2 separate regions of the Homo sapiens genome follow, and region 2 is linked to region 1. Evidence: fine-mapped expression QTL. A gene starts in region 1. The other region holds a variant in brackets. All regions are shown on one strand. Distances are from middle to middle. Region 1 holds the start of C2orf49-DT (C2orf49 divergent transcript). Region 2 overlaps TGFBRAP1 (transforming growth factor beta receptor associated protein 1).

What was found. PIP is the estimated chance that this variant, and not a neighbour inherited with it, causes the effect.
Region 2: its variant is the best candidate, but not a certain one, in a credible set for the expression of C2orf49-DT in subcutaneous fat (FUSION, PIP 0.82).

Annotation. Positions count from the first base shown.
Region 1 is chr2:105,334,644-105,339,044 of GRCh38, forward strand. It overlaps C2orf49-DT (C2orf49 divergent transcript), which reads right to left and starts at 2,850. Exons shown (of 2, transcript NR_187479.1): 1 at 516-2,850; 2 at 1-425. It overlaps C2orf49 (chromosome 2 open reading frame 49), which reads left to right and starts at 2,897. Exons shown (of 4, transcript NM_024093.3): 1 at 2,897-3,043. The coding sequence starts at 2,945. RefSeq lists enhancers at 2,540-2,929, 2,940-2,989.
Region 2 is chr2:105,299,825-105,304,225 of GRCh38, forward strand. All of the region lies in intron 2 of TGFBRAP1 (transforming growth factor beta receptor associated protein 1), which reads right to left. Among named protein-coding and RNA genes, the nearest start is that of TGFBRAP1, 28 kb to the right of the region's middle. The variant TA/T (reference allele first, on the strand shown) is at 2,185.

The DNA.
Region 1 (4,401 bases):
TGGTCCCCACACAAGTTCAGAGATGTTCTTTGTCCACTGTAGTGTTGGTTTTCAGTCTTTTGGTTTCAGGCTTGAGGGTTAGAGATGTCTGTGACTTCAATTCCCATGTGGTATGGCAGAATTCTCTGTGAGGCAGCCCTTCTGCCTGGACATACTTGAAGCATCACCTCAGAACTTGTTAGAAATGCAAATTATAAGGCCTCCCCATCAACCTCCTAAATCAGAAAGTCAGCAGACTGCAAATTCTCCAATGTTCCATGCTACAAATGTTCTGCCCAGGAAGGAGTGGGCAGGCATCACCACTCTCTCCTTCCCTTGGAGGAGAGACGGTATGTGAATCTCATTCTAGTTCCTCCTCTCTTAATCTTGATTTTTTTTCCTCAGATGACAATCCTTCCATCTCAAGAGTTCTGCTTCAGAGTCACCTAGAATAATATTAATAGAATTAGTTATAAGCAAGGAAGTACTCTTAGTTTTAAACTGGGAAGTACTGGAAGAAAAAAAAGACATCTTACCTGCCACAAAACATTTTTGCAGATGAAGTTTAAGGCTTCAGGTTAGGCGATGGGTTCAGAAAACCACAGAGAGGAAAAGCATAGCAAGAACCTGTAACCACTTTTTCAGACTATTAAACTCAAGGTTCTTCCCACTTATGCCATCATCCTGCCACTTTTTTCCTTTGATGACAATCAATAGGATACAAGAACTCTCCAAGGAGAGCCCACAGAGGAGGCATTTTACACACTTGAGCTCCAATCCTCACAACACTGTGAGATGGCTTATAATTTCCATCTCAGAAGGGAGGAAGCTACAGCTAAAGAGAGAATGTATGTCCTAGGTGAGTAAAGAAGCCAAGGTTATAATACAACTGAGCTACTCCAAAGCCTGCCCTTTTCTCTAAACTGCCTTCTATGACCCATAACTTTGTAAAAATCAGCTACCAGTTCTTAAACACTTACTGTGTCAAGTGTGTTTATAATCTCCATAATCTCCACTCCTTTGATCATTCTTCACAGAAAGTGCTAACACAGCATTTTCCTGATGAGGGGACTGAGGCTGAGAAACTAACTCACCCAAGGTTTTGGTGCAACAAGAGTAAAACTTGAAATGAAGTCAGGTTTCTAGCCCCGGATTCTCCCAAGGTAGCTGCTTTTGATACTAAAACAATGTGCCTCCCGGTGAAGGAAATGGGGATAATACTAATCACACTTATTTCTCTATTGTAATGAAAATCAAATCAGATTTGAGAGATATGGAATATGATGATGTTAATACTATGACGCTAATACATTTAACTCCAATTTAAGACATTCAGACGCCTGCCTCAGCTCAGATTTAAGACTATTCAATTTTGGGCAAGTCATTTAATCTCTTTCTGATCAGCTTTCTTGGCACTAACATGAAAGAACTGGACTAACTTTTAAGTTCCCTCCCAGCTCTGAAATTCAGTTTCTAGACATAAAGTATTACATACATAAATGAGTAAGAAAAATTGGGAAACACTTCTCAGCTTTATCTTTTTGAGGAGCTCACTTCTAGTACTCTTTCACGGTTTATCTTTTGGCATCTTCAGAGTTCTTCATATTTTTGTAGACAATGCAATAATTTCCAATAAAATGATACCTCATAGAGGATGCATACAATAAACATTCAGAACATACCTGCAAGTTTTATTTTTTATTTATTTTTTCAGACATGGTCCCATTCTGCCGCTCAGGCTGAAGTGCAGTGTGGTAATCCTAACTGCAGGCTGGAATTGCTGGGCGCCAGTGATCCTACCACCTCAGCCTCCCGAGTAGCTAGTACTACAGAGACACTACCATGCCCGGTTAATTTTTTTTTTATTTTTTGTAGATACGGGGTCTTACTATGTGGCCCAGGCTGGCCTGGAACTCCTGGACTCAAGCAATCCTCCCACCTGAGCCTCCCAAAACGCCGTGATTACAGGCATAAGCCACCATACCCAAGTTTAAGTTTTAAATGTGCAAAATATTTAGGGATATGTATCTCTCCCATGAATGATGAAAGAGAAGCAGAAAATATTTCTTAGTAAGTGAATTACTGGGAATTAAGACTATGATTGATACCTACAGCAATTTAAAAAGTTACTTCATTGTACCTATTAATACATGCAGAAAAAAATGTACTTGGATTTTATGCTTGCTACTTCCTCGCTCTTGAGTAAATTATCCTTTCTATGCATCAGTTTCCTCATCTGAAAAATAGGCATTCTAGTAATATATACCTCATTAGGCTGTTCTGAGGAATGTGATAATACACGTAAAATGCAGTCCCTGGCACACTGTAAATGTCTAACAAACGTTTGGCGGCTATTACTGGCGTTTCCCAGCCCGTTATTATTTTTTACATGTGAGCAAGTTAATTCAGAGGATTACTTCAAGAAACAAATACTTGAATACCTATCTGTCCAAGCAGCCGGGGTTACAGGGAATTCACTACATAAAGCCTCTGGTCTTACATTATATAGAAAGGCGATGAAGAGACAAGAAACAGGTTAAACAGAAAAACACGATAATTTCACACATAACCACTGCCATATTTAAAGCACTGTACACCGGCCCTCGGAGCCAGAATTCTTTCCCTCGAGGTTGCCCCAGGAATCCCTTTGACCTCTGCCATTGGACGTCACAGAAGGCGCGACTAATCGTGGCTGGCTCCCGGAGCTTCACTCTTCCCTCTCTTCCTGCGAAACTTGACACGCCATTTGTTTCTACGTCTGACATCCTCCTCTTTTCTCTGGTCCGTGGGAGCTTTTGCAAGCGGGACCAGGCCCCAACACCCGAACCAGCAGCGAGAGAAGGAGCCCGGCATGCGGCGACTCAGAGTGACGACACACGCGAGTCTCCGCCCGAGTACGTCACTTCCGCAACGCTTCCTTCGCGGGGCTTTGTGGGTAGCCGACTGGGGTCTCCTGGCGACGACCATGGCGGGGGATGTGGGCGGTCGCAGCTGCACGGACTCGGAACTGCTGCTGCACCCGGAGCTGCTGTCCCAGGAGTTCCTTCTCCTCACTCTGGAGCAGGTTGGGCGCGCCGGATCGGAGGGTGGGCGGGTGGGCCTTCCCAGGTGAGGCGCTTGCACCCGAGCTTGCCTTAAGTAGCCCTCGGCAACCACGGACACTCCCGCCGGGTTTGTGTCACTCTCCACCCACACAGACCAGGCAGCTGTCTCCTCGCTCCTGCTCCTCGCCCCCTCTCCAAAAATGAGACGTCCGTAGAATATCAGGAATGCTTGGGAAATAGGGCTTATCTATCTGAGTCCCGATGGCTTGTAAAGAGGAGTCCCAGGCGACACCCCCTGCCTGTGTGTAAGCCCCGACCTGAGGAAGAAAGAAGCGTGGAATAGACATGGAATGTAGAAATCATGGACTGTCAGGACTGGAAAGCATCTGAGAAACCGTCCATTCCACACCTTCTAATCGTTTAAAGATGATAAAAACAGTTCCAGAGAGATGAAGTGACTTGTTTAAGGTCACAACATCTGTAAATGGTACTTCCGGGAGGAGAATTCAGGGCTCCTGGCTCTCCATGTAGTGCGTGCTCTTTTCCAGCTGGTGTGGCCTCTGATAATAGGAGAAAAGTGAGAAAGGAAAAAAGTGATGTTTTAAGTGATAGAGAATTACTGGAAGTTTCCTTGGGGTTTATGTAGCGTATTTTGTTGTTTTTCATATGGCTTTCCCCTTAGTACCCTATCTTTGTTGAATTTCAGGTCCTCTTGCCACGTAGAGCTTAATTATGTCAGTAAGTTTTTACCTGTGGTTCTCAAACTTTTTAGGTACTTAAGAATGAGTCGAGGGACTTGCTAAAACACAGATTGTTGGGCTCCGTCCTCAGTTTCTCGTTCAGTAGTTCCGGAATGTGGCCCGAAATCTTGCATTTTTAACGAGCTTGTTGCTGGCCCAGAAAGCATGCTTTGACCACCACTGTCCTAAGGCAATACTTTCCAAAGTAATGGGCTTATGAATTCTCTGGGAACGTTGTCCAAGAGAATCCTGGTAGTTTCCCCTACTTCTGAGCGAGTACGGGCTAAAAATAGATGAGTCTAATATACGAAAGAGAAGTAAAATGTGCTTTTATTAGTTTTTGTTAGAGGATATAGGCTTGTCGGTGGTACTAAACACAAATGTTTTCAAGCCTTTCTGAGTTGAAATTGAAGAGCCTGTGATCTCATTTCCATTCTCATTTCTCCTTCTTAAATCCAAACTCTGTCTTCATGACTACTCCTGTGCTTATGCTATGTTTTTCATGATGTCAAGAACAAATTGGAAAATGAGGAAGAATTTGGTGATTTAGATAGAGATGGTTGGACAATGACTGGAAGCTTACTTGAAAGGACCAGTGAAAATGGGGTGCAGGCTTTTCTAATGATGTACTGCTACTG
Region 2 (4,401 bases), 35 kb before region 1:
AGTAACTGGCAAAAGAGGAGTCCAGGACAAGCACTAGGAGAAGCCTCGAAGCCCCACTTGGGAACAGAGGGGACTGTGATCAACACCCACAAACTAATTCTATTCTTGCCAAATAGGTGATAAAGTCTATTGTTTCTGTAGTGCTGCAGGAGTGCAACTGCTGTCAACAGGCACATGTAACAAATGTGTAAATGGCACACCTTTTAAAACCATTATTTTCAATCGTGTACCCTTTATGTTTCATCCACCCCCTTATCTAAGCTGGGAGAAGGAGAGGGAACCATGTGTGGTGAAGAGTAGCTGAATTATTTACCTTCTTCAAGAAGCACTGTCATAGGACAGGGTTTAAGACTATAAACCTCTGGTTTAAAGTCTGGTGGTTACTATGCTGAAGATAGAATCTGTATATAGGTACTGTGTGATAGGCGTTACAAGTAATCTTTCAATTTGCTTATAATTGTGCCAGTTACAAGCAGAACAAAACTTAAGAAGGTTGGTTCATTTAGCCAGATGCCCATGTAGCTGAGACACAGTGCATCATAAAGATTATTGACTATTATTTCCCATCAATCCTAACACTACAACCAACATAGGATAATGGAGTAAAATCTTTTTTTTTTTTTTTTTTTTCCGAGACAGTCTCGCTCTGTTGCCCAGGCTGGAGTGCAGTGGCACCATCTCGGCTCACTGCAACCTCTGCCTCCCGGGTTCAAGCGATTCTCCTGCCTCAGGCTCCTGAGTAGCTGGGATTACAGACATGCACCACCATGCCTGGCTAATTTTTGTATTGTTAGTAGAGACGGGGTTTCGCCACGTTGGCCAGGCTGGTCTCGAACTCCTGACCTCAGGTGATCTGCCTGCCTCGGCCTCCTGAAGTGTTGGGATTACTGGCATGAGCCACTGCGCCCAGCCTATCAAATCTTTATAACTAAAACAGTTAGGTATTGGCACGTGAATAGGCAAATGAACTGACAGAATAAAACAGAAAATCCAGAGACAGACCCAATACATTAGGAAATTTAGTGTACATTAAAGGCCATCATCAGTGAGGAAAAGATAGACTCTTTAATCAGTTTGTTAGGATAACTGGACAGCTATATAAAAAAGATAAAATTGAGGTTGGCCGCAGTGGCTCACACCTGTAACCTCAACACTTTGGGAGGCCAAGGCAGGCAGATCACTCCAGTCCAGGAGTTCAAGACCAGCCTGGGCCATGTGGTGAAACCCGGTTGCTACAAAAACTACAAAAATTAGCCAGCCTTGGTGGCGGGTACTATTCCCCAGCTACTAAGGGGAATGAGGCAGGAAGATCACTTGAACCGGGGAGGCGGAGGTTGCAGTGAACTGAGATTGTGCCACTGCACTCTGGCCTTGGTGACAGAGAAATACCCTGTCTCAAAAATAAATAAATAAATAAATAATTTAAAGAGATAAAATTGAATGTATTCCTTACACTCTTCAGTATAAGAAATGAAACTGGTCAGGTGCGATGGCTCAGGCCTGTAAGCCCAGCACTTTGGGAGGCTGAGGCGGGTGGATCACTTGAGGTCAGGAGTTTGAGACCAGCCTGGCCAACATGCTGAAACCCTGTCTCTACAAAAAAATACAAAAAATTAGCCAGGAATGATGGCACCCACCTGTAATCCCAGCTACTAGGGAGGGTAAGGCAGCAGAATCATTTGAACCCGGGAGGTGGAGGTTGCAGTGAGCCGAGATTGTGCCACTGCACTCCAGCTTGGGCAACAGAGCTAGACTCTCTCAAAAAAAAGAAAAAAAACCACACAGGTACTAGAAGAAAACACAGGTGAATTTGTCTTTAACCTGGAAGACAGAGAAATCTTCCTAATTATGACTCAAACTCAAGAAGCAATACCTGAAAATATTGATACATTTGATTATACAGAATTTTCTTTTTCTTTTTGAGATGGGGTCTTGGTGTGTTGCACAGGCTGGAGTGTAGTGCCTAGTCACAGGCACAATTACAGAGCAACACAGCCTCCAACTCCTGGGCTCAAGCGGTCCTCCTGCCTCAGCTTCCTGTGGCTGGGACCACAAGCACATGCCACCACACCTGGTGAGATCATATCGAAATTTTTCAAAAAGCTTTTTCACGGTAAAATATGGAAACAAATACCTGAAACTTATATAACAGAGAAGTTGGTATCTCAAACATATAAAGAATAC[TA/T]AAAAAAAAAAAAAAAAAAAGGCCTAGAGATAAGAAGAGATAATTCCCATCGGAAGAAATGTAAATGGCTTTTAAACGTGAAAAATGTTCAACCATGCACATAAACAAGAGAAATGGAAATTAAAACTACACTGAAAAACCATTTCTCATGTACTAGACTGGCAAAAACACACAAGTTTGGACAACATCCTCTGTTGGCAAAGCTGGAGGGAAACAGGTACTTTCATAGGTTGCTGGGGAAAAATAAAATGGTGCAACCTTTATCAAGGGAGACTATCGCAATACCTCACATTTATACTTTGACTCTGCTATCTCATCTCTAGAAAGCTTTCCAACAGATACACTGAAAACACACACACATACACACAAATATAAGTCCCCAGGAATAGCTAAAGACTGAAAAAGACCCCAAATGTCCATCAATAGATGGAACGCATTATGGTACCTCCACACAGCAGAATAGTGCGCAGCTATAAAATGAAGGAGGAATACCTCTACACTCTGAAGTGATCACTTTAGTATATTAAGTAAAAAAAAAAGCAAGGTGAGGAAAAGTACTCTACCATTTAGCCAAGGAGGAGATACAAATATTTACATATTTATGTTGTATTTTAAAATGAAAGAATAAACCCTAAAAATAAAGGTTACCTATGGGAGAGGGAGACTTGGTAAAAAGCTAGCTGTGAGCTTAGACCTCTTTGACGATATCTTGCTGTATCCGTCTGTCTTGGAACTTTGTAAACATTTATATAATAAAAAACACACCAAAGCAACTTCTAAAAATCAAAAGTAAAATGAAACAAACAAATCTAACTATAAATCTAGTTGATGGCATAACCACACAGAGGAGAACTACTCCAAGTGACTTTAAAACACAGTAATTTGACTAGATTTCTAATACCCTAAGGACAGAAAGAACCACAAACCATCAGAGTTTCCAATAATTATACTGTGGGAGCGGTAGTGCTGGTCCTGTTACTCTGTTGTATGTACTGTGGGATAAATCAAAGGAGTAATTATGTTGAGGTAGTAGAGAAGTCAGATCTTTGGTGTGGTTGAAAGGAGATACAGGTACAATGATGGATTGGTTCTATCAACATGATTTCACAATGAAATTATCTTTACAAACATATACTTTACCCAGGTGCAGTAGTGCACGCCTATAGTCCCAGCTACCTGGGAAGCTGAGGCGAGAGGCTTGCTTGAGCCCAGGAGTTCAAGGCCAGCCTCGGCAACATAGCAAGACCTCGTTTCTAAAAGAATAAAATAAAATAAAAAAGACATACTTCCCAGCACTGTCTACTGAAAGAAGGGCCTAGAAACAATGAGCAGTAAGCACCTCTGGCTCCCAGACTGTGGTCTGTAAACATCAGGGCTTTTTGGAGAAATGGCTGAAACCAGACCCAGGGCAAGAAATGTACGAGGTGATCTAGGAATATCCTGAAACTCAAGGAAGCAATCAGATTTCTAGTGGCATGAAAAAGGGACTGACAAGTCCACCTGAATAAACTCCCACCAGGCATGGATGAAACCAAGCACATCACATACATTTGCGTCCACGAGTTTATAATGATACTTTTCAGAAAGCCATTTCTGTAAGACAGAAGAGATCCCCATATTGAAAACTGAGTAACTGAATTGATCTGGGCAGTAACTGTCAACAGCTGCTAACATTACAGAGCGATGAAGGCATTATGCAACCTTGACAGAGGTACTCCACCACTAGGAAGTGGTCTTGCCTCCCCACAAAACAAGCAAATTTTTAAAAACCCTGAATCTCCTAATTACTATTTGAAGAAAACACAGAGGTCAGAGAGGCATGTTAAACAATACTATGGGAATGAAATCATTAAAATCCAGATTGTGGGACACCATACATGAAACCATCCAATTTCTTCAGCAAAAAAAATTAAAGAAAAGCAAAAAAGAGATGAAGCAGAAAACTGAAGATTAAAACAAAGTAACAGATCAATCAATTGCAATGTATGGGCCTTGTATGAAACTGATTCAAACAAACTAAAAATAAACATACAAATACTTAAACATAAGTGTATATATATATTTACATCGATTATGGTGTATGCTAATAGGGGAAATATGACACATCTACATATATTTGATATTTAGGAATTACTGTCAGGTTTTTTAGGAATTGTGGTTTTCTTAGGTATCTGTAACTTAGAAATATGTACTAAAATGTTTACAGATGAAATGCT